3 separate regions of the Homo sapiens genome follow, and all the other regions are linked to region 2. Evidence: fine-mapped expression QTL. A gene starts in region 2. Each other region holds a variant in brackets. All regions are shown on one strand. Distances are from middle to middle.

Region 1 (8,000 bases), 26 kb before region 2:
TGTCTGTTTTAACTACAAAGCCCATGTTCCAAATTTAATAATGGTATCTAGTGCTTGCTTTGGCAGCCCATATTCTGAAATTGGAACAATACAGAGAAGATTAGCATGGCCTAAAAACCAAAACCAAGGCCGGGTGCGGTGGCTCACACCTGCATTTTGGGAGGCCGAGGTGGGCAGATCACCTGAGATCAGCCTGACCAACATGGTGAAACTCTGTCTCTACTAAAAATACAAAAATTAGCCAGGTGTGGTAGTGCACGCCTGTAATCCCAGCTGCTTGGGAGGCTGAGGCAGGAGAATCACTTGAACCCGGGAGGTGGAGGTTGCCATGAACCAAGATTGTGCCACTGTACTCCAGCCTGGGTGACAGAGCAAGACTCCATCTAAAAAAAAAAAAAAAAAAATCGTCATAATCTTATTAAAACCTTAAAATCTTGAAAACAGGTTCACCACTTCTCAAAGCCTTCCAGATGTGCATTTCTACGAGATCCTGTGCACAGTCCAACCAAAATGCCAAAATTTGGTTGGATTATAGCCACTCTGGTTTACCTGGGTATCAGGCTGATCAGAAATGCTGATGAGCTATTGTGTGTATATTTAATTAATAAAAACAGGAAAGCAGATTAATTATTATTTTTTTTTGAGACGGAGTTTCACTATTAGAGCCCAGGCTGGAGTGCAGTGGTGCGATTTCGGCTTACTGCAACCTCCGCCTCCTGGGTTCAAGCGATTCTCCTGCCTCAGTCTCCTGAGTAGCAGGGATTACAGGCACTCACCACCACCCCCGGCTAATTTTTGTATTTTTAGTAGAGATGGGGTTTCGCCATGTTGGCCAGGCTGGTCTCGAACTCCTGGCCTCAGGTGATCCACCTGCCTCGGCCTCCCCAAGTGCTGGGATTACAGGCATGAGCCACGGCGCCCTGCCGCAAATTATTATGGAGTCTGTGCACCAGGTTTGGTCATAAAATCTGTCAAAAACATGGGGTCTCCAGGCAGTTCTGGGGGGTGAAGTCTTCTGATCTCACCCACCGCCTCATTCTGCATGAAAGGAAGCAAGGTCCCAGAGAGGGCAGGACATTTTTCCAAGGTCCATCAGCAAGACAGGGAAGTGGCTGAGACCGGAGCCTACCTGCACTGACTTTGTTCTCATCCCCCACTGGCGCTCTCCACTCCTGCGGGCCCCAGCTGAGCCAGCTCAAGCTGCACTGTCTGAGCGAGAGCATTTACCGCAGCAAAGGGCTGCAGCGGGAACTGCGGGCGCACGTTGTGAGGTTCCACGAGTGCGTGGAGGAGACGGAGCTCTACTGCGGCCTGTGCGGCGAGTCCATAGGCGAGAAGAACAGCCGGCTGCAGGCCCTACCTTGCTCCCACATCTTCCACCTCAGGTGGGGGCTCCTGGGGGGGTGGACAGGGGTGGGCAGGATCTCTTCGGGGCACTCTAGGGCCCAGCTGGCTTAATCACAGCAATAATACTAATAGCAAACACTTAACCTTGGCCAGGCGTGGTGCCTCACGTCTGTCTCGCAAGCACTTTGGGAGGCCGAGGCGGGCTGATCACTTGAGCCCCGGGGTTCAAGATCATCTTGGCCAACATGGTGAAACCCCGTCTCTACTAAAAATACAAAAATTACCCAGGCATGGTGGTGGGAGCCTGTAATCCCAACTACTCGGGAGGCTGAGGCAGGAGAATCACTTGAACCCGGGAGGCAGAGGCTGCAGTGAGCTGAGATCTGTGGCCATTCTTTTCATAATCCCCAAAGAGGAGTCAGAGAGGCCCCTCAAAGGTCATTAGGTCGGACGTCCAGGGCCAGACCTGCCGTGGGTCTGGTTCCATCCCATCCTCTCAACTCCCAGCCCCTGCTCTGCCCTGGAGGTCCCTGGGGCAGAGGAGGAGAGGGGCAAGCCGGGTGCAGTGGGAGCCTGGGGGGACCGTTCCCTTCCCTTCCACTGCTGCTGAACAGCCACCAGGATGCATCCCAGCCCCTGCAGAGGGCAGGCAAGGAAGGAAGAGAGGGCCCGGAGGGAAGGACAGGCCTCAGGGGAGTGGACAGGGCCCTTTGCCTCCCCAGGTGCCTGCAGAACAACGGGACCCGGAGCTGTCCCAACTGCCGCCGCTCATCCATGAAGCCTGGCTTTGTATGACTCCTGGCAGCAGGCGTGGGCTTCCTCCTCGCCACTCCTGCTCTTTCTCCACTGCACGCCAGAGGCCCATTTACTCCTGGGGCAGCTGCCAGGTCGTCCTCACCATAGCCAAGGCCTTGGGGCCTGCCCAGGGCTGCTCCCCTGGGCCCAGCTCCCCTCCCTGCCTCTTTGTACTTTGCTCTTTATAGAAAAATAAACTGTTTGTACCTGGTCCCAGGGATTCCGACTTTCCATGCCCAAGGTCTGAGGAGTGGGGAGAGTGGGAGTGAGGCGCCCCACAGGAGCTTCCTCAGACGCAAGCGTTTCCTCTGCACATATGTACAAGGGCCTCCAGCAGCCCCTCCAGGAACTTGGGATGCCACAGAGACACGATCCCTGCAGTGAGAAGCTGACGTGCAGTGGGTGGGAGGGTATATGATAAACAGGAAACACACAGTTTGGAAAGCCTGGTGGGAAGCTGCTATAGACGAATCGTGTCCCCCCAGATTCCCATGTTGAAGGCTTAGTCCGTTTGGGCTGTTGTAACGAAACAGACTGGGTGGCTTGTAAACAACAGGAATTGATATGTCACAGTTCTGGAGGCTGGGAAGTCCAAGATCAAGGCACCTGCAGATTGGGTGTCTGGTGAGGGCGCACATTCTTGCTCACAGATTGAGTTTTCTTGCTGTGTTCTTGCATGGTGGAAGGGACAAGGAAGTTCTCTGCATTCCTTTTTTTTTTTTCTTTTTGAGACAGGGTCTCACTCTGTCGCCCAGGCTGGAGTGCAGTGGTGAGATCTCAGCTCACTGCAACCTCCGCCTCCCGGGTTCAAGCAGTTCTCCTGCCTCAGCCTCCTGAGTAGCTGGGATTACAGACACGCATCAACATGCCTGGCTAATTTTTCTATTTTTAGTAGAGACAGGGTTTCTCCAAGTTGGCCAGGCTGGTCTCTAACTCCTGACCTCAAAAGATCCACCTGTCTTGGCCTCCCAAAGTGCTGGGATTACAGGCGAGAACAACCATGCCAGGCACAGTCCCTTAATAAGGGCACTAATCCCATATATAAGGGCTCCACCCTCATGACCTAATTGCCTCCCAAAGGCCTCACCTGCCTAAT[G/ATG]ACAGTCCTAGCAGGCTCATATAATGTGATAAGTTCTTTGTAACAATAAAGAGTAGAGCCTGGTTGTGTGCAGTGGTTCCTGCTTGTAATTCCAGCACTTTGGGAGGCCGAGGTGGGTGGGTCACTTGAACCCAGGAGTTCAAGACCAGCCTGTACAACATGGCAAAACCCTGTCTCTAGAAAAAAAAAAATACAAAAATTAGTCAGCATGGTGGCACACACCTGTAGTCCCAGCTACTCGGGAGGATGAAGCAGGAGAATCTCTTGAACCTGGGAGGCAGAGGTTGCAGTGAGCCAAGATCATACTACTGCACTTCAGCCTGGGGGACAGAGCAATACTCTGTCTCAAAAAAAAAAAAATAAGAGTAGAGGCCTGGCGCAGTGGCTCACACCTGTAATCCCAGCACTCTGGGAGGCAGAGGGGAGGTTGGATCACCTGAGGTCAGGAGTTCGAGACCAGCCTGACCAACATGGTGAAACCCCGTCTCTACTAAAAATACAAACATTAGCTGGGCGCGGTGGTGGGCGCCTGTAATCCCAGCTCCTCCGGAGGCTGAAGCAGGAGAATCGCTTGATCCTGGGAGGTGGCAGTTGTGGTGGGCTGAGATTGTGCCATTGCACTCCAGCCTGGGCAACAGAGCGAGACTCCATCTCAAAAAAGAAAAAAGAGTAGAGCCTGGTCCCTCTTCCTCATGTTCACCCCCTTCCCTAAACCAGTTCTAAAACCATTAAGTGGGACAGAGCAAGACAAGCATCTGTGTGGAGGGGTGACCTGGTGTGAGGCACTGGAATCTAAGCAGGCTGAAGAGTGTCCACACAGGGCAAGGCCTGGGGTGAGAGGTCAGAACCTGTGTGGAGAGAGGACAGAATCCACACATGGGGTTGGGTTGTTTTGAAGTGTCAGAGACCAAGCCCAAGGAGGGGCAGCCTGGCGTGGGCCATTGGGACCTCACCAGAGTAAGGAGGCATCCAAATTGGTGAAGGTTTGTGTGAGGCATCAGAGCTTGAGTAGAGCGAATAGGCCATGCACATGATTTGGGGCATCCTGGCAGGGGGCATTAGGTCAAGGATGGAGTGAAGAGGGTTCTGTGTGTGGAAGGGAGTGGCAGTGGAACACTGGGTACACAGAGGGGGTTGATCAAACAAGTAAGTAGGTCAGGTGCGGTGGCTCACAGTCTATAATCCCAGCACTCTGGGAAGCCGAGGCAAGTGGATCACTTGAGGTCAGGAGTTCGAAAGCAGCCTGGCCAACATGGTGAAACCCCATCTCTACTAAAAATACAAAAAAAAATTAGCCTGGCGTGGTGGCAGGCGCCTGTAGTCCCAGCTACTCAGGAGGCTGAGGCAGGAGAATGGCGTGAACCAAGGAAGCAGAGCTTGCAGTGAGCCGAAATCCTGCCACTGCACTCCAGCCTGGGTGACAGAGCAAGACTCTGTCTCAAAAAAAAAAAAAAAAAAAAATTAGCTGGGCGTGGTGGTGCACACTTGTAATCCCAGCTACTTGGAGGCTGAGGCAGGAGAATCCCTTGAGCCCAGGAGGTGGAGGTTGCAGTGAGCTGAGAGCACACCACTGCACTCCAGCCTGGGCAACAAGAGTGAGACTCCATCTCAAAAAAAAAAAAAAAAAAAGTAGGTAGATTAAGGACAGTGGAAGGCAGCTTTCTCACTTTTTTTTTTTTTTAGATGGAGTCTTGCTTTGTCACCCAAGCTGGAGTGCAATGCCTCCATCTTGGCTCACTGCAACCTCTGCCTCCTGGGTTGAAGCAATTCTCCTGCCTCAGCCTCCTGAGTAACTGGGACTACAGGCATGTGCCACCATGCCGGCTAATTTTTTGCATTTTTAGTAGAGACAGGTTTTCACTGTGTTAGCCAGGATGGTCTCGATCTCCTGACCCCATGATCCGCCTGCCTCAGCCTCCCAAAGTGCTGAGATTACAGGTGTGAGCCACCGTGCCTGGCCGCTTTCTCACTATTGATGGAGAGAATTACAAATATGGAAAGGGAGAGAACCAGAGTGGACCCTGTGGCGCTGAATTAGAATTGTAAGAATCAGTGTGAACTCATGGATTTCAAAATATACGGGTAGATCTAGAAATAAATATAGTTATAAATGTGCGTGTCCACCAGCCTGGGCGCAGTGATATGCCAACAGCAATGAGCTCACCCAGCAGCCAGGGCTTGGCTTTGAAACACCATGTTTCACAAAAAGGAACCAAGGCTCTTTGGTCAAGGGCCTGATTCCAGGGCTGGGTCATAGAGAGTACAAGATGAGCCAGAGCTATTTTGTGCCAGAAAGCAAGGGAAGTTGAAAGAATAATGAGGAAAACTCAAAGGCCACAGGAGCCAGCTTGGATGGGCTCCCAGCAGCCACTGATAATGAGTAACAGTGAATGTCGCAGCTCAGGCTGCCATAACAAGGCACCTTAGGATGAGAAGCTTAAACAACTAAAACTTACAGTTCTAGAGACAGGACATCCAAGATCGAGGTGCCAGAAAATTCAAGAAGCCTCTCCTCCTGACTTGCCCTTCTCTCTGTGTTCTTACAAGACTTTCCCCCCATGCTGCTGTGGTGACAGCAAGATTGAGCCCTCTCTCTCTCTCTTTTTATGTATTTATTTATTTTTGAGACAGAGTCTCGCTCTGTTGCCCAGGCTAGAGTGCAGTGGCATGGTCTTGGCTCACTGCCTCAGCCTCCCAAGTAGCCAGGATTACAGGTATGTGCCACTATGCCTGCCTAATTTTTGTATTTTTAGTAGAGATAGGGTTTCACCATGTTGGTCAGGCTGGTCATGAAGTCCTGGACTCAAGCAATCCACCTGCCTCAGCCTCCCAAAATGCTGGGATTACAGGCACGTGTCACCACACCCGGCTAATTTTTGTATTTTTAGTAGAGACAGAATTTGGCCATGTTGGCCAGGCTGGTCTCGAACACCTGACCTCAGGTGATCTGCCCCCCACCCCCTAGTCTCTTTCCCTCCCTCCCTCTGTCTTCCTCTTCCTATAAAGGCACTAATTGTCTGGGTGTGGTGGCTCACGCCTGTAACTCCAGTAGTTTGGGAGGCGGAGGCAGGCAAATCACTTGAGGTCAGGAGTTCGAGACCAGCCTGGGCAACACGGCAAAACCCTGTCTCTACTAAAAATACAAAAATTAGCCACATGTGGTGGTGCACATCTGTAATCCCAACTACTTGGGAGGCTGAGGTGGGAGTATCACTTAAGCCCAGGAGGCAGAGGCTGCAAAGAGCTGAGATGGCACCACTGCACTCCAGCCTGGGCCAGAGTGAGACCCTGTGAAAAAAAAAAAACGAAACAGGCTGGGCCTCATTGAGAAGGTGGCATGTGAGTGAAACCTTAAAGGAGGTGAGAGATTGAACTAAGCAGATTTCCTGGAAAGAGCATTCTCCTAGAGAACAGAATCCTAAGACAGGAGCTTGCCTGATGTGCTCAGGAGCAGCAGGGAGGCCTGTAAGTGAGCAGGAGGGAAGGAGGAGGAGTGGAGGCCAGGAGGAGAGTGTGGTGTGAACACATGCAGGACTTGGGAAGGACTTTGGCTCCTGCTCTGGCGAGTCGGGCACCTGCTGAGGATTTTGAGCAGAGGAGTGACGTGATCTGACTTGGTTTTACAAGAATTCCTCTGGTTGCTATGTGGAGAACAGATTCCATACAAGACAGCTGGCCTGAATGTTTCAAAAATGCCAAGGCCATGAAAGACCAAAATGATTGAGAGATTGTTCTGGAATAAAGAAGATTAAAGAGATGTGACAACTAAATGGATCATGTGACCCTTGACTTGATGCTGGATTTTTAAAATTATTTTATTTTATTTATTTATTTATTTATTTCTTAGATGGAGTCTTGCTCTGTTGCCCAGGCTGGAGTGCAGTGGCGCGATATCGGCTCACTGCAACCTCCACTTTCCAGGTTCAAGCAATTCTCCTGCCTCAGCCTCCCAAGTAGCTGGGATTACAGGCGCCCACCACAGCGCCCAGCTAATTTTTTGTATTTTTAGTAGAGACAGGGTTTCGCCATGTTGGCCAGGCTGGTCTATGAACTCCTGACCTCAGGTGATCCACCCGCCTCGGCCTCCCAAAGTGCTGGGATTACAGGCGTGAGCCACCGCACCTGGCCAACGATACTGGATTTTTTTTTTAAAGGCTATAAGGGATGTTTAGGGAATAATTTAAGACATTTTTATATAGACTATATATTGGATATTATTGCATCAATATTAAATTCCCTGGGTATGACTATATATATAGATAGATAGATTTTTTTTTTTTTTTTTTTTTTTTGGAGACAGAGTCTCCCTCTGTCACCTAGGCTGGAGTGCAGTGGCGCAATCTTGACTCACTGCTACCTCCACCTCCCAGGCTCAAGTGATTCTCCTGCCTCAGCCTCCTGAGTAGCTGGGATTACAGGCATGCACCACCATGCCCAGCTAATTTTTGTATTTTTAGTAGAGACAGGGTTTCTCCATGTTGGCCAGACTGGTCTCGGATACCAACCTCAAGTGATCCGCCTGCTTTGGCCTCCCAAAATTCTGGGACTACAGGCGTGAGCCACCACCCCCAGCTGACAAGGTATTATACTACCAATGTATCATAGCTATGTATGAAAATGTCTGTTTTTAGGAGACACGGGCTGAAGTATTTACAGGTGAAGTGTCATGAAGTCTGGAAGTTATTTTGATTTTTTTTTTTATGACGGAGTCTTGCTGTGTTGCCCAGGCTGGAGTGCAGTGGCCTGATCTCAGCTCACTGCA
Region 2 (8,000 bases):
AGGTTGAGGTAGCCGCTGACCTGGGAAGGAGGGAAGGCAGGAGGCAGGGCTGAGTGGGGCTGGCCACTCAGGGCAGTACGGCTGCAGGGGCCCTGAGCAGGCCACTCACTTTGATGCTCCGGACCACGGCACCGAGGCCGGGCTCTGCAGCCGGCTGGGCCAGACAGTGGCCTCCATTGAGCGCGGCGGCAGCAGCAGTGGGGTCTTTGTTGGGGGCCTAGGGCCAGGAGAAGGAGGGAGAGGTGACATTAGATGCCCCCCACTCAGCCAGGGCAGACAGAAGGGGAGAGAGATGGAGAAAGAGAGACGGGGGCTGGGTGCAGTGGCTCATGCCTGTAATCCCAGCACTTTGGGAGCCCAAGGCAGATGGATCACCTGAGGTCAGGAGTTCGAGACCAGCCTGGCCAACATGGTGAAACCCCACCTCTACTAAAAATACAAAAATTAGCTGGGCGTGGTCCCAGCTACTTGGGAGGCTGAGGCAGAAGAATTGCTTGAACCTGGGAGGTGAAAGCTGTAGTGAGCCGAGATCGCGCCACTGCACTCCAGCCTGGGTGACAGAGCGAGACTCTTCTCAAAAAAATAATAATAATAATTGGGAGGCTGAGGTGGGTGGATCAAGAAGTCAAGAGATCGAGACCATCCTGGACAACATGGTGAAACCCCGTCTCCACTAAAAATACAAAAGTTAGCTGGGCATGGTGGCGCGCACCTGTGGTCCCAGCTACTCGGGAGGCTGAGGCAGGAGAATCGCTTGAACCCGGGAGGCAGAGGTTGCCGTGAGCCACGATCGTGCCACTGCACTTCAGCCTGGGTGACAGAGCGAGACTCCGTCTCAAAAAAAAAAAAAAAAAAAAAGATAGGAACCCCTGTTTTTTCTAGCTAGAATCCTCTGCTGCTATATCAGTTGGGTGCCCCCAAACTCAACAAACCCTCCCCAACTGCTGTCACCATCAGGCTACCAGAACAAGCTACATCAGGGGCTAATGGTGTCAGTCCCAAAGAAGGTGGCCCAACCTCCCGCAGCTCCCAGGAGAGGGCCAGGAGACCCCTCTTTTCAGGGCTCAACTCAGACCCTGGGCCTCCAGGCCCCGGGCACTACCACAGAACAGAGGCTGATATATCCAGGCCCTTGAGTGTGGGGCCCACCTGGCTGGTCCCCTCCTCCTTGCTGTCCAGGAACATCTTCTCCAACGCCAGGAAGGTCAGGATGCCAGCAATGACCCACAGCCCCAGCTGTTGCTGCTGCTGCAGGCTCTGCCCCTCACCACCTGCAGGGGGCGGCAATGCCAGGCCAGGCCAGGCCAAGCCAAGCCAGGGCCATAGGAGGGGGCCATTTGGAATGGGATCTCATCCAGGGCACCAGGGCAGTGACAAGGGTGGGTTGGGCAGCTGGGGCCCAGAACTCCCACTGGGACCAGGGCCCAGAGACCAGGACAATGACCCTCCCTCCCTCCCAGGCAAGCTCCTGCCAGAAACCCAGAATCCCTCTCCTGGTCATCCTGGCCATCCCTGGGCGTGGGCACCAGGCCCCCACTCCTGGCACTGTCTTGCCCCTGGCGTGTGGCCTCACTTACCAGGGCTGGCGCTGCACGTGTAGGCCCAGGCTTCGGGCAGCAGATGCAGAAACACATTGCCCAAGAGTCCCCCCAGGGCGAAGCTGAGCAGCTGCTTCAGGCGCCAGGCCCCAGCTACAAGGGAGAGATGCGGGGTCTGGGGGCTGACTGGCTGGAGCTCCTGGCCTGACCTTCATCCCACCCCACTCACTGGGCTCTTTCTGGGCCTGCAAGGCTGGATATGGGTGGCTGCTCTTCCTGGGTCCCCCACCTCACAGCAGAAACACCACACCCTGCCAAATGCCCACAGGGCCACCACCATGTCATGGTGAAGAGCTGACAGGTCCCAGCTCCCAACCCACTAGCTGGTGACCTTGGCAGATGACTTTGGAGACTCGGTTTCTCCATCTGTAAATTGGGTCTTATGGGAATTATTATTTTATCTTGTTTTGTTTTGAGATGGAGTCTCGCTCTGTTGCCCAGGCTGGAGTGCAGTGGCGTGATCTTGGTTCACTGCAACCTCCATCTCCCAGGTTCAAGCGACTCTCCTGCCTCAGCCTCCTGAGTAGCTGGGATTACAGGTGTGTGCCACCACATCCGGCTAATTTTTGTATTTTTGGTAGAGACGGGGTTTCATCATGTTGGCCAGGCTGGTCTCGAACTCCTGACCTCAGGTGATCTGCCCACCTCAGCCTCCCAAACTGCTGAGATTACAGCTGTGAGCCTTTTATGGGCTCTTATGGGAATTAAATGACAATATGTACAGCAAGTGCTCATTACGTGGGAATTTTTCTCTTCTCAGCTGCTGTCACTCTCAGAAAAGTGGCAGAGATTTGGGGACTTGCAGCATCCAGGGTTGGAAGTCGCCTGCCTGAAAGCCATGTCCAACCCTTTGGCTTGATAGAGAAACTGAGGCCTAGAGGACAGAGGCAGCTGGGTTTGGGGTGGGATCCCAGGGGAAACTGCTATTTCCTGGCTGGGTGACCTTGGACTGGTCAAAGAACCTCTCTGTGCCTGTGCATCCCCACTTGTAAAATGGAACTAATAATCCAGGTGCTCCCTGCACTGACCCCGCAGGGCTGCTCTGAGGGTTGAGCACAGGCCTGACCATGGCCCAAGCAGGGCTCTATTCACAGCTGTGGCACCGCCCTCAGCCCAGTGCCTGGCACAGAGCTGCTGGGTAACCATCTGGTAAGTGAATGGTTCCTGAGCATCCAGCTGGCAGCACCAGCCCCTGGGATGCTCGTTTCTAACAGATTCCCAGGGCCTTGGTCCACCCCTCTTAGGTGGGGGATAGGCACGTGCATTCTTAGCAGCTCCCTAGAGCTCTCCTGCGTGTTTTGTTACAACATGTTATTTGTGAACGGGCAGTACATGCTCATGGTACAAAAGGGTAGTCAGGACAAAGCTCCCACCCGTGCCCACATCCCCATCTCCTAGACCCCCTCCCCAGGGGCAGGCCCTGCTACCAGGTGCTCATAGCTTCCTGGGGAAGCCAGAGCCAGCCGCCCCTGGCTAGATAGCTCCTACAGGACCAAGGGGAGAAGTTCTATTCTATCCTCTCCCTCCATCTCAGACACTCTGTGACCTGGGGTCTCCTAAGAAGAGCAGCAGCATGCTTCCCACACCCTGGCCAGCCCTGGGCGCCACCGGAGAGTCACCTACCTTCTGAGCGCAGCATGGTCCCCATCTCTAGGGGAATGACAAGCAACGGGAAGACCCCACTGAGCCCCACCATGAGGGAACCCAGGAGGGAGCAGATCCAGGTGTCCAGCCGCTCTCCGCTCAGCAGAGCCCCCCAGGACTCGCTTTCCTTGTTGTCCAGGCGACAGGCCGTCGCAGTCCCCCGGCTCCGGAGGGCCGGCTGGGAACCCCCAGCCCTTTCCAAGAGCTCCAGGGCAAGGGCAGTGAGGAAGAGGAGCCTTGGGCCCGCCATGCCACAGCCAGGGCAGGGACATCCAGGCATGCCACGTACTGAAAAACACAAAAGGCCACCTATATGAGCTACAGCCTTGGCCGCACACCTGCTTAGGAAACGTGGCGCCTCCCTCCTCCCCGCAAGGGACCCTGGCATCCACCCTCCTGCTGTCCTTGCCAGAGCGTCTGAGCATCCAAATGCTGGGTGCACAGCAATGGGGCCCTGTGTCTCCACACCCTACTCCTGAGCACTGCGTATTTTTTCCTTCTGAGCAGCTCCAGACTGTGTCAGCACCTCCGCCTGAGGCTAAACTTTCCCTAATGACAGGGTGAGGCGCTGGCTGGCTCTCCTCAGCCACCGGCGGCACGGCCCGGCCCAGCTGGGTGTCTCTGGCTGCCAGGGGAGGCCCTGCCGCCCGCGACACCCCAGAGACTGAGGCACCCCTTCTAAGGGGATGGGGTGGATTCAGAGAGACATACGTGGGGAAACTGAGCAGATGAGCCAGGGCAAGACCATCCACGCTTCTTCCTAGGACATGAGACCAATGTCCCCAGGGCACTGAGGGCAACAGGAGATGGGGCTGATGAGGAAGGAGCCTTTAGCCAGGGGATGCCTCTCTCTTGTATAGCGCAGGCTTTAGAGCCCCCACGGTGAATTCTATGCTGCACTTTGAGCTGTCTAACTCTGGGCAAATCTCTGAAGCCCCCCCTCTGAGCCTCAGTGCCCTCATCTGCAGGACAGGGATCAATATCACCTGCCTCAGCTGTGAGGACGAGATAAGCCTGAAAGTGCAGGTGGATGTACCCGGCATGAGGAGGCGCAGAGGCCCTGCCTGTGCCAGGGAAGGCCTGGGGCTCCCTGCAGCAGGAATGTGCCCAGCCGGCCGATCACAGGATGTGGACGTGAGTCAACCAAGCGAGAAGTTCCATCTGGAAACTCGGGCATGAGGTTTAAATGTGGTCTGCTCTGCCTCAGGCTGGCTGTGACCTTGAGCTGGTGATGTCCCTGCCTCAGTTTCCTCACCTTCTGATGGAGATGGGAGGGGAAGAAAGCAGCTGCCTCTGGGTGGTGGCAGAGATGCCCATGTCTAGGACCTCCAGGCCTTAACTAATCAGGGGCACTGATGAAGCCAGCGGGGCTCCACTGGGGACCACAGGCAAGACTGGGCCAGGACGAGGCGGTCACGCAGAGGTGAGGGGACCACAGGCTAGCGGGAGGGAATACACGGAGAGTCCAAGGGGAGAGGAAAGTAGAGAGTGAGAGAGCTAGAGAGAGGCGGGTGGGACGCGGAGAGGACAGCGAGGGAGGGATGGGGCGTGGGGCGCGGAGCGATGGGGGAGAGGAGGCCGAAGCGGGCGAGCCTGACTCCCGGGTCCTGGGAGCCGGCCCAGGTCTGATGAGGACCAGTCGGACGGGGCGAGGGATCGGCCGGGTCCATCACGCCCGGGGCGCGGGCCCCGAGGGTCCTGCTGGCACTCACCGTGCGGCGGCGGCGGCGGCGATCCGGGCGGCCCCAGCCATCCAGCTGCGGTGCCGCGCCCCGCCCAGGCTCTGCCCCGCCCGGCCGCCCGGCCGCCCGGCCCCCGGCCCGGGGCCGCCCCCGGCGCGCGGCCACGTCACAAGGGGCCTGTCCGGAACCCGAGGCGCCGCGTGCCGCGGGGTCGGGGGGAGTGGCGGCGGGAGGGCGCTTCCGCCTCGCGGCGGTGGGGGACCCGGGTAGAGGGCGCACTTCCGTTTGGGCAGGGCTGCGGGCCGGAGGGGAGGGTCGGTCGGAAGTGAGAGAGCCACACGCACCGCGCTCAGCCAGGCTGGGCAGGGACGGAAGCGGCGGCTCTGCGGGGACCGCGATCGACCAGGCTGCGGGGCTTGCGGATCTGGCCGCCGCTTCCCGTCCAGGGCCGCAGTCTGCCCGTGGCCGCACGGGGGCGCGCCCGGCCGCCAGACCACGCCGCCCAGGTCGGGCTGGGAGGACTACTGTGCGCTCCTGCTCTGAGTCAGCCCGGCCTGGCTCCTCCATGAGCAAGGGAAAGGGGAAGTGCCTGCCGCAGGGAGGGGCCTGGCCCCGGGAACCTCAGAAGAGGGAATTTTATTCTTACTCATCGAATTATTTTTATGCTTTGGTTTTTCACTGGGAACCTCAGGCCACTGTCTCCAGGGCTTGTAACCCTTTGGGGTCCAATGCATGGTGGCTGGACCCTGCTGATGGGAACTCCAAACCTGGGAGGCGAGGGCTCTGTGCTTCCCTCACCTGGAGGAAGCTAGACCTGACCTCTTTGGTTAGACTAAGGCAGCAAACACTGGATAGCAGTTCTTATAACCGCAATTTACTGACCACCTACTATGTGCTATTCACTTTACTCGCACTATCTCACTGAATCCTCATATTATCCCATTGTGGTGGGTACTGTTAGCCCAGGGTCACACAGTGGCACAGATGGCAGAGCCAGGATTCAAACCTGGGTGTCCTGAAGCCAGAGTATGTGATACCACTTCTCACGTCTAGGTCCTGAACAGCAGTGGGAGTCTGGCTTGGCGTTTCGAGTTTGTATTCTTCTCTGGAAATCAGCCAGTACAGGAGAAGATTCAGGAAGGGGCATGTGGGTACTCACTTGGGCAGAGATAGCGACTGAGTACAGGTCTCTTAAGTCTCTGACCCTCATCAGCCTCCCATGGCAGCTCCAACCATTTACTCTGTCACTTTCCCCTCTGCTGGGGCTCTTGAGAGCACACTCAGCTCTCAGGGCTGCCTCTGGTGCCTGTCCCACTTCATGTTGCACTGTTGGCCTTCCTTAGACCGCCAACTTCTCCCTGGTGGCCCAGCTTGTCTTCTGAAGCTTTCTGTCCATCTCACCCCACCGGGCCCATACAACTGCCAGGACGTTCTGTTCCCTCCCTGAGTTCCAAAATGGAATCCCTGGGTTAGTTTCTTGGCAAAGAAAAGCTACTCAGGGATCCTGCCCTAGGACTTCTAAAATGCCCCCCTCCCTGTATGCAAAAGCGCTCCATCTTATGCAAAGCACTTCACAATATGCAAATGATTTCACAATAACACAGTCAGCATTCCTGCCTCTGGAGGCTGAGCGCTCCTGGCCACCCAACAAGGGGATGGGCAAGACCCAGCCAGAAACGTTACTTGGTGCCAATGCACTACCCTTTCCTCCCACCTGGCCTGGAATTCCCATCGGATACCTAAGGCCCGGTGGCTCACATCTGTAATCCCAGCACTTTGGGAGGCCTAGGAAGGAAGATCTTTTGAGCCCAGGAGTTCCAGACCAGCCTGGGTAACAAACTGAGAACTGGTCTCTACAAAAAAATTTAAAATTAGTCAGGTGTAATGGTGCGCACCTGTAGCCCCAGCTACTCAGGAGGCTGAGGTGGAAGGATTGCTTGAACCCGGGAGGTCAAGGCTGCAGTGAGCCCTGATCGTGCCACTGCACTCCAGTCTGGGTAACAGAGCGAGACCCTGTCTCAAAAATAAAAAAATAAAAAAAATTACAAATTAATAAAATTGCAGGGGTTTCCAGGTGTGTGAGAAAAGTGAGATGCAGAAATATTTATTTAATATGATCCACTATTTTTATTTTTTAAGAGACTATTTTAAAATAATGACAAAAAGAAACCTTGTATATGTGTATGTGATTAAAGGTATCAGTATATATAAGTCTATGTATAATGAATACATAAAAAACATAGATAACACATTAAAGTGATATTATGGATTCTATGGTGGGAGGAACTAATGTGAATAGGGAAGGAAAAAATGTTAAAGGAAAACAACACATTAAAAGATGTGTATGGCCATATATGGCTGGGCATGGTGGCTTATGCCTGTAATCCCAGCACTTTGGGAGGCCAAGGTGGGCAGATCACCTGCGGTCGGGAGTTCAAGACCAGCCTGACCAACATGGAGAAACCCCCTCTACTAAAAATACAAGATCAGCCAGGTGTGGTGGCGCATGCCTGTAATCCCAGCTACTCGGGAGGCTGAGGCAGGAGAATCGCTTGAACCTGGGAGGTAGAGGTTGCAGTGAGCCGAGATCGCGCCATTGCACTCCAGCCTGGGCAACAAGAGCGAAACTCCATCTCAAAATAAATAAATAAAAGGTGTATATGATCACATGTATGCAATGTGTAAAATTGTATACATATATCAAATCTCATCTCAGATATATGAAAATCTCACTATATAAAATCTCTTTCTCTTTCTCTTTTTTTTTTTTTTTTTTTTGAGACAGGGTCTCACTCTGTCACCCAGACTGGAGTATAGTGGCATGATCTCGGTTCACTGCAACCTCCGCCTCCCAGGCTCAAGTAATTCTCCAGCCTCAGCCTCCCAAGTAGCTGGAATTATAGGCATGGGCCACTACTTCCCGGCCAATTTTTGTAGTAGAGACAGGGTTTCACCATGTTGGCCAGGCTGGTCTTGAACTCCTTACCTCAAATGATCCACCCGCCTCAGCCTCCCAAAGTGCTGGGATTATAGGCGTGAGCCACTGCACCTAGCCTCTGTCTTTCTCTCTCTCTCT
Region 3 (8,000 bases), 51 kb after region 2:
CCATCTCTACTAAAAATACAAAAATTAGCTGGGCATGGTGGTACATGCCTGTATTACCAGCTACTTGGGAGGCTGAGGCAGGAGAATCACTTGAACCCGGGAGGTGGAGGTTGCAGTGAGCCGATATCGTGCCACTGCACTCCAGCTTGGGCAAGAGTGAGACTTCATCTCAGAGAAAAAAAAAAAAAAAAAAAAAGAGACAGGGTCTCACTCTGTCACCCAGGCTGGAGGCAGTGATGTAATCATAGCTCACTGCAGCCTCAAACTCCTGGGTTCAAACGATCTTTTCGTATCAGCCTCCCAAGTAGCTGGGACTAGAAGTGTGTGCCACCATGTCTGGCAAATTTTTAAACATTTTTTGTAGAGATAGGGTCTCACTATGTTGCCCAGGCCGGTCTCAAACTCCTGGGCTGAAGTGATCCTCCCTCTCCAGCCTCCTGGGTAGCTGGGATTATAGGTGTAACCACACTCAGTGGGAATCTAGGCTCTTTAGAATAAACTATTATTATTATTAATAATAATGATAATGATGAAGTTAATGTTTATCAAGGTCTGTCTTTGTGCCAAGTTCTAGTCTAAGCACTTTGCAAGCAATAGGTCATTTGCTTCTCAAAACAAGCCTGTGAGATGGGTGTAATTGTTAGCCCCATTTAACAGATGAGGACACAGGCTTGGAGAAATAGAATGACCTGCCCATTGTCACACAGTGGTAAATGGCAGAGCCAGAACTTGAGCCCAGCTCTGCCTTTCTCTCCTCTCTGCCATGTGGCTTCCTAAAGGTGGGAGTCTGGGTTGTCTGGACTGTGAGGCCAAATAATTATACATGTAGACAAGGCCTCAGTAACTACCCAGGTCTAAAAGCATTTCTGACTTTTAGAGTGGGGAATGAGAGGCTCCGGGAGAAAAAAATGTCTTGTCCATGGTCATACTGCAAAGCAGGTTTAGAAAGCGAGTACTCCGAGATCCAGTCCAGAACCAAAAATCATGATTATCTATTAGGGATGTGTGATTAGGTGTTTGTGTGAGAGAGAAAGAGAGATGCAGGCAGACATGTGTACACCTTTGTACACACGTACACACGCACGCATGGCTGGTGGTGGACTTGTCCCAGAGACACTGCCTGGACCTGGAGTCTCGTAGGCGCCCTCTTTGGCCCACATGAGACAGCCGATCTTGTCACTTTATTACCACGCTTCATTTTGGACCCCGAATTGCGCCCAGGAAGTCCCGCAGATGTGTGGCAGTTTTTGTTCCTGGAAAAGGTGTTCATGCTGAAGATCTTCCCCAGTTCCAAGACAGGGCTTTTGGTGGCATGGGGTTATTCCCCGGACTTCAGTCTCCTCCACCACAGACTCAAGGAACCCACAGGGGGTTTTCCAGGAAAGTCTCAGGTCCCAGGAACCTCACGGGAACACAGGTGCCACTGCTTAAGGTCATGGCTTTGAAGAGGAAGGGCCACCGTGTGCCTGGACAAGTTCTAGTGTGTGAGGAATGTCAGCCCTGTGACTCTGCTGTCACACCTTGGCCATGTGACAAGGCTGTGTGAGTGTGTGTGTGTGAGACAGAGAGAGAGACTGTGGGCAGCCAGGGAGCTCAGGAACCCGTGGGAGGTTTTTTTCTTTTCTTTTTTCTTTTTTTTTCTTTTTGAGACGGAGTCTCGCTCCGTCGCCCAGGCTGGAGTGCAGTGGCGCAATCTCGGCTCACTGCAGCCTCCGCCTCCTGGGTTCACACCATTCTCCTGCCTCAGCCTCCTGAGTAGCTGGGACTACAGGCACCCGCCACCACGCCCAGCTAATTTTTTTGTATTTTACTAGAGACGGGGTTTCACTGTGTTAGCCAGGATGGTCTTGATCTCCTGACCTCGTTATCCACCCACCTCGGCCTCCCAAAGTGCTGGGATTACAGGCGTGAGCCACTGCGCCCGGCCGAGTTTTTTTTTTTTTGAGGCAGAGTCTCACTCTGTCGCCAGGCTGGAGTGCAGTGGCGCAATCTCGGCTCACTGCTACCTCCACCTCTCGGGTTCAAGCGATTCTCCTGCCTCAGCCTCCTGAGTAGCTGGGATTACGGCACCTACCACCACGCCCAGCTAATATTTTGTATTTTAGTAGAGATGGGATTTCACCACGTTGGCCAGGATGGTCTCAATCTCCTGACCTCATGATCCGCCCGCCTCCGCCTCCCAAAATGCTGGGTTTACAGGCGTGAGCCACCGCGCGCGGCCCTGGCTGGGAGGTTTTAACAGGATAGGAGGGGAATCAACTTTCCCTGAGGGCCGGCTCTGGTGCGAGGTGTTTTACAAATGTGTACTCATTCGTATCTTCCCAATAACTGTGATCCCCATTTTACAGGCAACTCAACTGAGGTTAGAGAGGCCACATATGTGCCTGAGGTCACACAGCAAGTAAATGGCAGAGCCAGGATTAGACGCTCGGTCTGTGTGACTGCACAGGAATCAGGATGGAATTGCTGAGAACACGAGCTTTGCTTCAGCCCTGAGTCCTGGCTGTGACCCGGATGCTTTTGACCTTGGGCATGCTATGTAGCCGCTCGAAGCCTCAGTGTCCTCATCTATAAAATGCAGGCCTAGAGTAACCATGCAGGTGGCGAGGGTTAAACGAGATGGTTAGGCCCCATATGGCCTGGCAGTATTATTTAATGTTACTATAACCTTTTCCTGCCCTGCCCAACCCTGAGCTCACCCCATACTGCCTGGCTGTCCCCCACAGACCATTACTGGGACTTCCACCCCCACCACGTGCACAGCGAGTTCGAGAGCTTCGCCGAGAACAACTTCACGGAGCTCCAGAGCGTGCAGCCCCCGCAGCTGCAGCAGCTCTACCGCCACATGGAGCTGGAGCAGATGCACGTCCTCGATACCCCCATGGTGCCACCCCATCCCAGTCTTGGCCACCAGGTGCATGCCACCGCCTGCCCCGTCCCCCAGGAGACTGCCAGGCCTGTGGTGGGGCCCGGGAGCTTCACAGGAAGCTGACACAGGCTCTTACCCAACTCAGCTTCCTGCCCCACAGTGCCAACGGCGGCTGGAGCTCCAACGGCTGCCGCCTGACCCCCCAAGTGACCTCATGACCCCACACCCCTTATCTCATCTCACCCCGAGTATGGACAGACCCCAGATAATTCTCGCACCCTCACCAAGCCTCCCCATCCCAACGCCTTGTTGTGGGCCCTCCTGGGCCTCACTGTCTGCCACCCCCATTCACTAGCCCTCATGGATCCCACACCAAGTCACTGAACACCTCTACTGACCCTGCCTCTCCCCAGTGACCCTCCCTACTGACCCTAACCCGGATCAGTGACCTCTGCTGACCTCTACCACCCCTACTGACCTCCAGGGTCCCTCCACTCACTCATCATCCCACCTATGAAACCCCCTTCCAGACCCAACGCACCGGTCCCTAGCATGCCCTCTTCTGACCCCAGCCTAATGCGGGTCCACACAGCACCGCTGCAGGGAGGAGAACAAGGCACCACTTCCCCGGTGCCCACAGTCCTAAACCAGGAGGCCCAGCTGGGAGGGCTGGGTGGGCTGGATGTCAGCACCCCTCGCCCCACAGCCTGCACCCTATGTGCAGCACCTCAACTGGCCCCCCTTTTCCCTGGTCTTCTTCCTCCAGTCTCCTGTGCCTGCCATTGTCCCCTGCCCTCTGCACTCCTTCTCTCCCCAGCTGACCTCCCTCCCAGCCCCCCTGAGCTGTAAGCTGGC[C/T]CTTCCTGACTCTGATCTCCTTCCCCCACCGTCCAGGTCTCCTACCTGCCCCGGATGTGCCTCCAGTACCCATCCCTGTCCCCAGCCCAGCCCAGCTCAGATGAGGAGGAGGGCGAGCGGCAGAGCCCCCCACTGGAGGTGTCTGACGGCGAGGCGGATGGCCTGGAGCCCGGGCCTGGGCTCCTGCCTGGGGAGACAGGTGGGGCACCTGGCCCTCCACCCTGGCCCCGACCCTGGCCGTGTCTGTGCCCTGCCCCCACCCAGCCAGGCCAACTGACCCAGCAGCCACGCCACCGAGTCGCGTGTGTGTGTGTGTGCATGTTTGCCAGTGTGTGTGTTTTGTGGGGCTGTCTGTGGCTGTCTCTGTGTGTGTGTATCTGCTGTGTAGTGCATACGGGCATCTCCATGAAGTGTGCCAGGTGTGTGTGTCTCTCTGTGCCATGAGTGTGTGTACATCTGGGTGTGTGTGAGCAAGTGTGCAGAGGGTGCGTGTGCACAGGTACGGGCAGGTGCATGTGTGCGAGTGGCTGTGTGAGTGGGTGTGTGAGAAGGTGAATGTGAGAGCTGGTGTGGCTGAGAGTGGGTGTGGCCATGTTTGTGTGTCTGTCAACACATGAATGTATTTCAGTGCGTGTGAGCAGCTGTGCACGTATGATGTCAGTGGGTGTCAGCAGTGTGTGGGTGTGCCTGTGTGAGCAGGGATGTGAGCATGGTATATGTGAGTGGCTGTAAGCAGGCATGTGTGAGTGATATGTGTGAGTGGGGGTGTGACAGCAGGTGTGTGAGCAAGTGTATATGTGTGAATGTGTATGTAAGCAGGGATGTGTGTGATATAAGTGTGTGTGAATGGGCATAGGTGTGTGTCAGTGGATGTGTGAGTGGGTGTGAACATGTTTGAGGGTGTATGTAAGCAGGTGTGTGTGAGCAGGAAGGTGTGAGCTGGGGTGTGTGAGCATGTATGTGTATATGTGAGCAGGTCTGTGCATGTATGTGAGTGGATATGTGTTTTAACATGTGTAAGCATGTGTGTGTTCCCATGTGTGAGCAGGTGTGTGTGGGGGGTGAGGACGTGCTTAAGCACCTGCGTGTGTGAGCAGGTGTGCATGTGTGTGAACAGGTATGTGTATGTGTGAAAGCAGGTGTGTGAATGAGTGTGTGAGCATGAATGGGTGTGAGTGGGCCGGGCGTGGTGGCTCACGCCTGTATCCCAGCACTTTGGGAGGCTGAGGCAGGCGGATCACCTGAGGTCAGGTGTTCGAGACCAGCCTGGCCAACATGGCGAAACCCCGTCTCCACTAAAAATACAAAAATTAGTCAGGCGTGGTGGTGAACGCCTGTAATCCCAGCTACTTGGAAGGCTGAGACAGGAGAATTGCTTGAACCCGGGAGGTGGAGGTTGCAGTGAGCCGAGATCGTGCCATTGCACTCCAGCCTGGGCAACAAGAGCAACTCCATCTCAAAAACAAGAGAATGGGTGTGATGTGTGAGTGTGAGAGCAGGTGTGTGTGAGCATGCATGAGTGTGAGCTGCTGTGAGTGGATGTGAGAGCAGAATGTGTGTGAGCATTTGAGTGTGCAAGTAGGTGTCTGAGTGGTTGTGTGTGAACAGGCGTGTAAGCATGCAAGTGGATATGCATGAGCAGAATGTATGTGCATGCGTGAGCAGGTGTGAGGTGCAAGTGTAAGTGGTGTGAAATATGAGTGAGCAGGTGTCAATGAGGTGTGAAAGAGCTGGTGTGAGCGTGTGAGTGATAAGTGAGCAGCTGTGAGGTGTGAGCATGTATGTGAGCAGGTATGTGTGATGTGTGAGCATATGTGTGAGCATGTGTGTGTGCAGATATGTGTGGGCAGGTGTGTGTGAGTGGGTGTGAGATGTGAGCATGTGTGTGAGGTATGAGGTGTGAGCATGTGTGAGGTGTGAGCATGTGAGTGGGTGTGAATGTGTGAGGTGTTAGCATGTGTGAAGTGTTAGCATGTGTGTGAGCATGAGTTTGTAAGCATAAGTGTGTGTGAGACTTGGTGTGAGGTGTGTGAGGAAGTGTGTGTATGGATAGGTGAGCATGTGTGTGAGCAGACGTGAGCATGTGTGAGTGGGTGTGTGCGTGAGTGAATGGTGTGAGGTGTGTGAGCACAAGTGTGTGAGCAGGGGCGTGTGTGTGTAGCTGAGTAATGTGAGATGTGTGTGAGCAGGTGTGTGCGTGTGGGGCTGAGTAACGTGAGATGTGTGTAAGCAGGTGTGTGCGTGCAAGTGTGTGTGAGGTGTGGGTAGGTGCGATCATATGTGAGTGGATATGTGTGAGTGAATGGTGTGGTGTAAGCATGTGTGTGTGAGCAGGGGCATGTGTGTGCAAGGGTGAGCAATGTAAGGTGTGAGGGTGAGCAGTGTAAGATGTGTAAGCAGGTGTGTTTGTGCAAGCATGTGTAAGCAAGTATAAGCAGGTGTGATTATGAGACCTGGTGTGAGGTGTATGAGCAGGTGTGTGAACATGAGTGTGTGAACCTGGTGTGAGGTGTGTGTGAGCAGGTGTGAGTGGGCATATGAGTGTGAGAAGGTGCATTGGGTGTGACCGTGTGTGGGGGCAGTAAGTGGGTCTGAGTGTGTGTGCATGTGTGTGAGTGGGTGCATTGGGTGGGTGTGAGTGTGCATGTGAGTGGGTGTGAATGAGGTGTGAGCATGAGTGGGTGTGACCAGGTGTGTGTGAGTGGGTTGTGAATGTGTAAGCAGATGCAGTGTGGGTTTGAACATGTGGGTGGGTGCAAGCATGTGAGTGGGTGTGTCGTGTGGGTGCCAGTGTGTGGGGGCATGTTAGTGAATGAGTGTGTGAGCATGTGTGTGAGTGTGAGCTGGTGCATTGTGTGGGTGTGTGAGAAAGTGACAGTGTGTGAGGGCAGATGTGGGTGTGAATGTGCAAGTGGGTGGGTGTGGGTGCAATCTGGCGTTTGGGTGCATTGCACAAGCATGTGTGTGAGCATGTGGGTGTGAGTCTGTGAGCACGTGCATTGTGTGTGCATGTGTGTGACAGCATGTGTGTGATCAGATACATTGTACGTGTGAGCGTGTGTGGGTGTGAGCATGAGTGAGTGGTTGCATTGTGTTTAAGCATGAGTGTGAGTGGGTGTGAGAAGGTGCGTTGTGTGAGCACGTGTGTGAGTGGGTGTGGGCGTGATGTGTGAGCATGTGTAAGGAGGTGTGGGTGCGTTATGTGGATGTGAGCATGTGTGTGTACTTGGTGCACTGTGTGGGTGCGAGTGTGTGCGCGTGGGGGGGGTGAGTGCGTGGGTGTGAGTGGGTGTGTGTGAACGCCTGTGTGTGCGCAAGCATGTGTGTGTGTGTGAGTGTGGGTGCGTTGTGTATGCACGCCCGGCGCGGGCTGGGGCAGCCGTTCCCCTGCCCTTCCCGGCCACCCCGTCCCCGGGCCCCTGTGCGTACGCAAGGCGGTGGGGGCGGCTCCCATGTGGGCCCCGGGCCCCCTCCCACCGGGCCCTCCCCCCCGCAGGCAGCAAGAAGAAGATCCGCCTGTACCAGTTCCTGTTGGACCTGCTCCGCAGCGGCGACATGAAGGACAGCATCTGGTGGGTGGACAAGGACAAGGGCACCTTCCAGTTCTCGTCCAAGCACAAGGAGGCGCTGGCGCACCGCTGGGGCATCCAGAAGGGCAACCGCAAGAAGATGACCTACCAGAAGATGGCGCGCGCGCTGCGCAACTACGGCAAGACGGGCGAGGTCAAGAAGGTGAAGAAGAAGCTCACCTACCAGTTCAGCGGCGAAGTGCTGGGCCGCGGGGGCCTGGCCGAGCGGCGCCACCCGCCCCACTGAGCCCGCAGCCCCCGCCGGGCCCCGCCAGGCCTCCCCGCTGGCCATAGCATTAAGCCCTCGCCCGGCCCGGACACAGGGAGGACGCTCCCGGGGCCCAGAGGCAGGACTGTGGCGGGCCGGGCCTCGCCTCACCCGCCCCCTCCCCCCACTCCAGGCCCCCTCCACATCCCGCTTCGCCTCCCTCCAGGACTCCACCCCGGCTCCCGGACGCCAGCTGGGCGTCAGACCCCACCGGGGCAACCTTGCAGAGGACGACCCGGGGTACTGCCTTGGGAGTCTCAAGTCCGTATGTAAATCAGATCTCCCCTCTCACCCCTCCCACCCATTAACCTCCTCCCAAAAAACAAGTAAAGTTATTCTCAATCCATCCTCTTGCAGCACAGAGTCTCTTTTAAAATTTGTTGTGTATCTCTTTTGGCCCCTGTGTGCTGCGACGTCTCTTTTTGTCATTTGTCCATCG

Direction of the effects. Alleles are on the strand shown, and positions count from the first base shown. SD is a standard deviation of normalised expression in the study named. Not every link is listed here.
As copies of T replace C in region 3, the expression in whole blood of the gene that starts at base 4,335 in region 2 goes up (small effect, 0.23 SD a copy in Lepik 2017).

Evidence for each region. PIP is the estimated chance that this variant, and not a neighbour inherited with it, causes the effect.
Region 1: its variant is fine-mapped to the expression of SLC39A13-AS1 in whole blood (INTERVAL, PIP above 0.99).
Region 3: its variant is fine-mapped to the expression of SLC39A13-AS1 in whole blood (Lepik 2017, PIP 0.95).

Annotation. Positions count from the first base shown.
Region 1 is chr11:47,432,117-47,440,116 of GRCh38, reverse strand. It overlaps RAPSN (receptor associated protein of the synapse), which reads left to right. Exons shown (of 8, transcript NM_005055.5): 7 at 1,186-1,385; 8 at 2,070-2,353. The coding sequence ends at 2,142. LOC124902673 (a long non-coding RNA gene) reads right to left here and starts at 2,493. Exons shown (of 2, transcript XR_007062669.1): 1 at 2,350-2,493. It also overlaps the pseudogene LOC124902820. The variant G/ATG (reference allele first, on the strand shown) is at 3,239.
Region 2 is chr11:47,405,617-47,413,616 of GRCh38, reverse strand. It overlaps SLC39A13-AS1 (SLC39A13 antisense RNA 1), which reads left to right and starts at 4,335. Exons shown (of 4, transcript NR_182308.1): 1 at 4,335-4,665. SLC39A13 (solute carrier family 39 member 13) reads right to left here and starts at 5,027. Exons shown (of 10, transcript NM_001128225.3): 1 at 4,955-5,027; 2 at 3,222-3,530; 3 at 1,578-1,691; 4 at 1,150-1,271; 5 at 110-217; 6 at 1-20. The coding sequence starts at 3,522. RefSeq lists enhancers at 2,903-3,767, 3,768-4,634, 4,923-5,745 and a silencer at 4,725-5,514.
Region 3 is chr11:47,354,767-47,362,766 of GRCh38, reverse strand. It overlaps SPI1 (Spi-1 proto-oncogene), which reads left to right. Exons shown (of 5, transcript NM_003120.3): 3 at 2,727-2,914; 4 at 3,761-3,923; 5 at 7,221-7,907. The coding sequence ends at 7,540. Among named protein-coding and RNA genes, the nearest start is that of MYBPC3, 6.1 kb to the right of the region's middle. The variant C/T (reference allele first, on the strand shown) is at 3,725.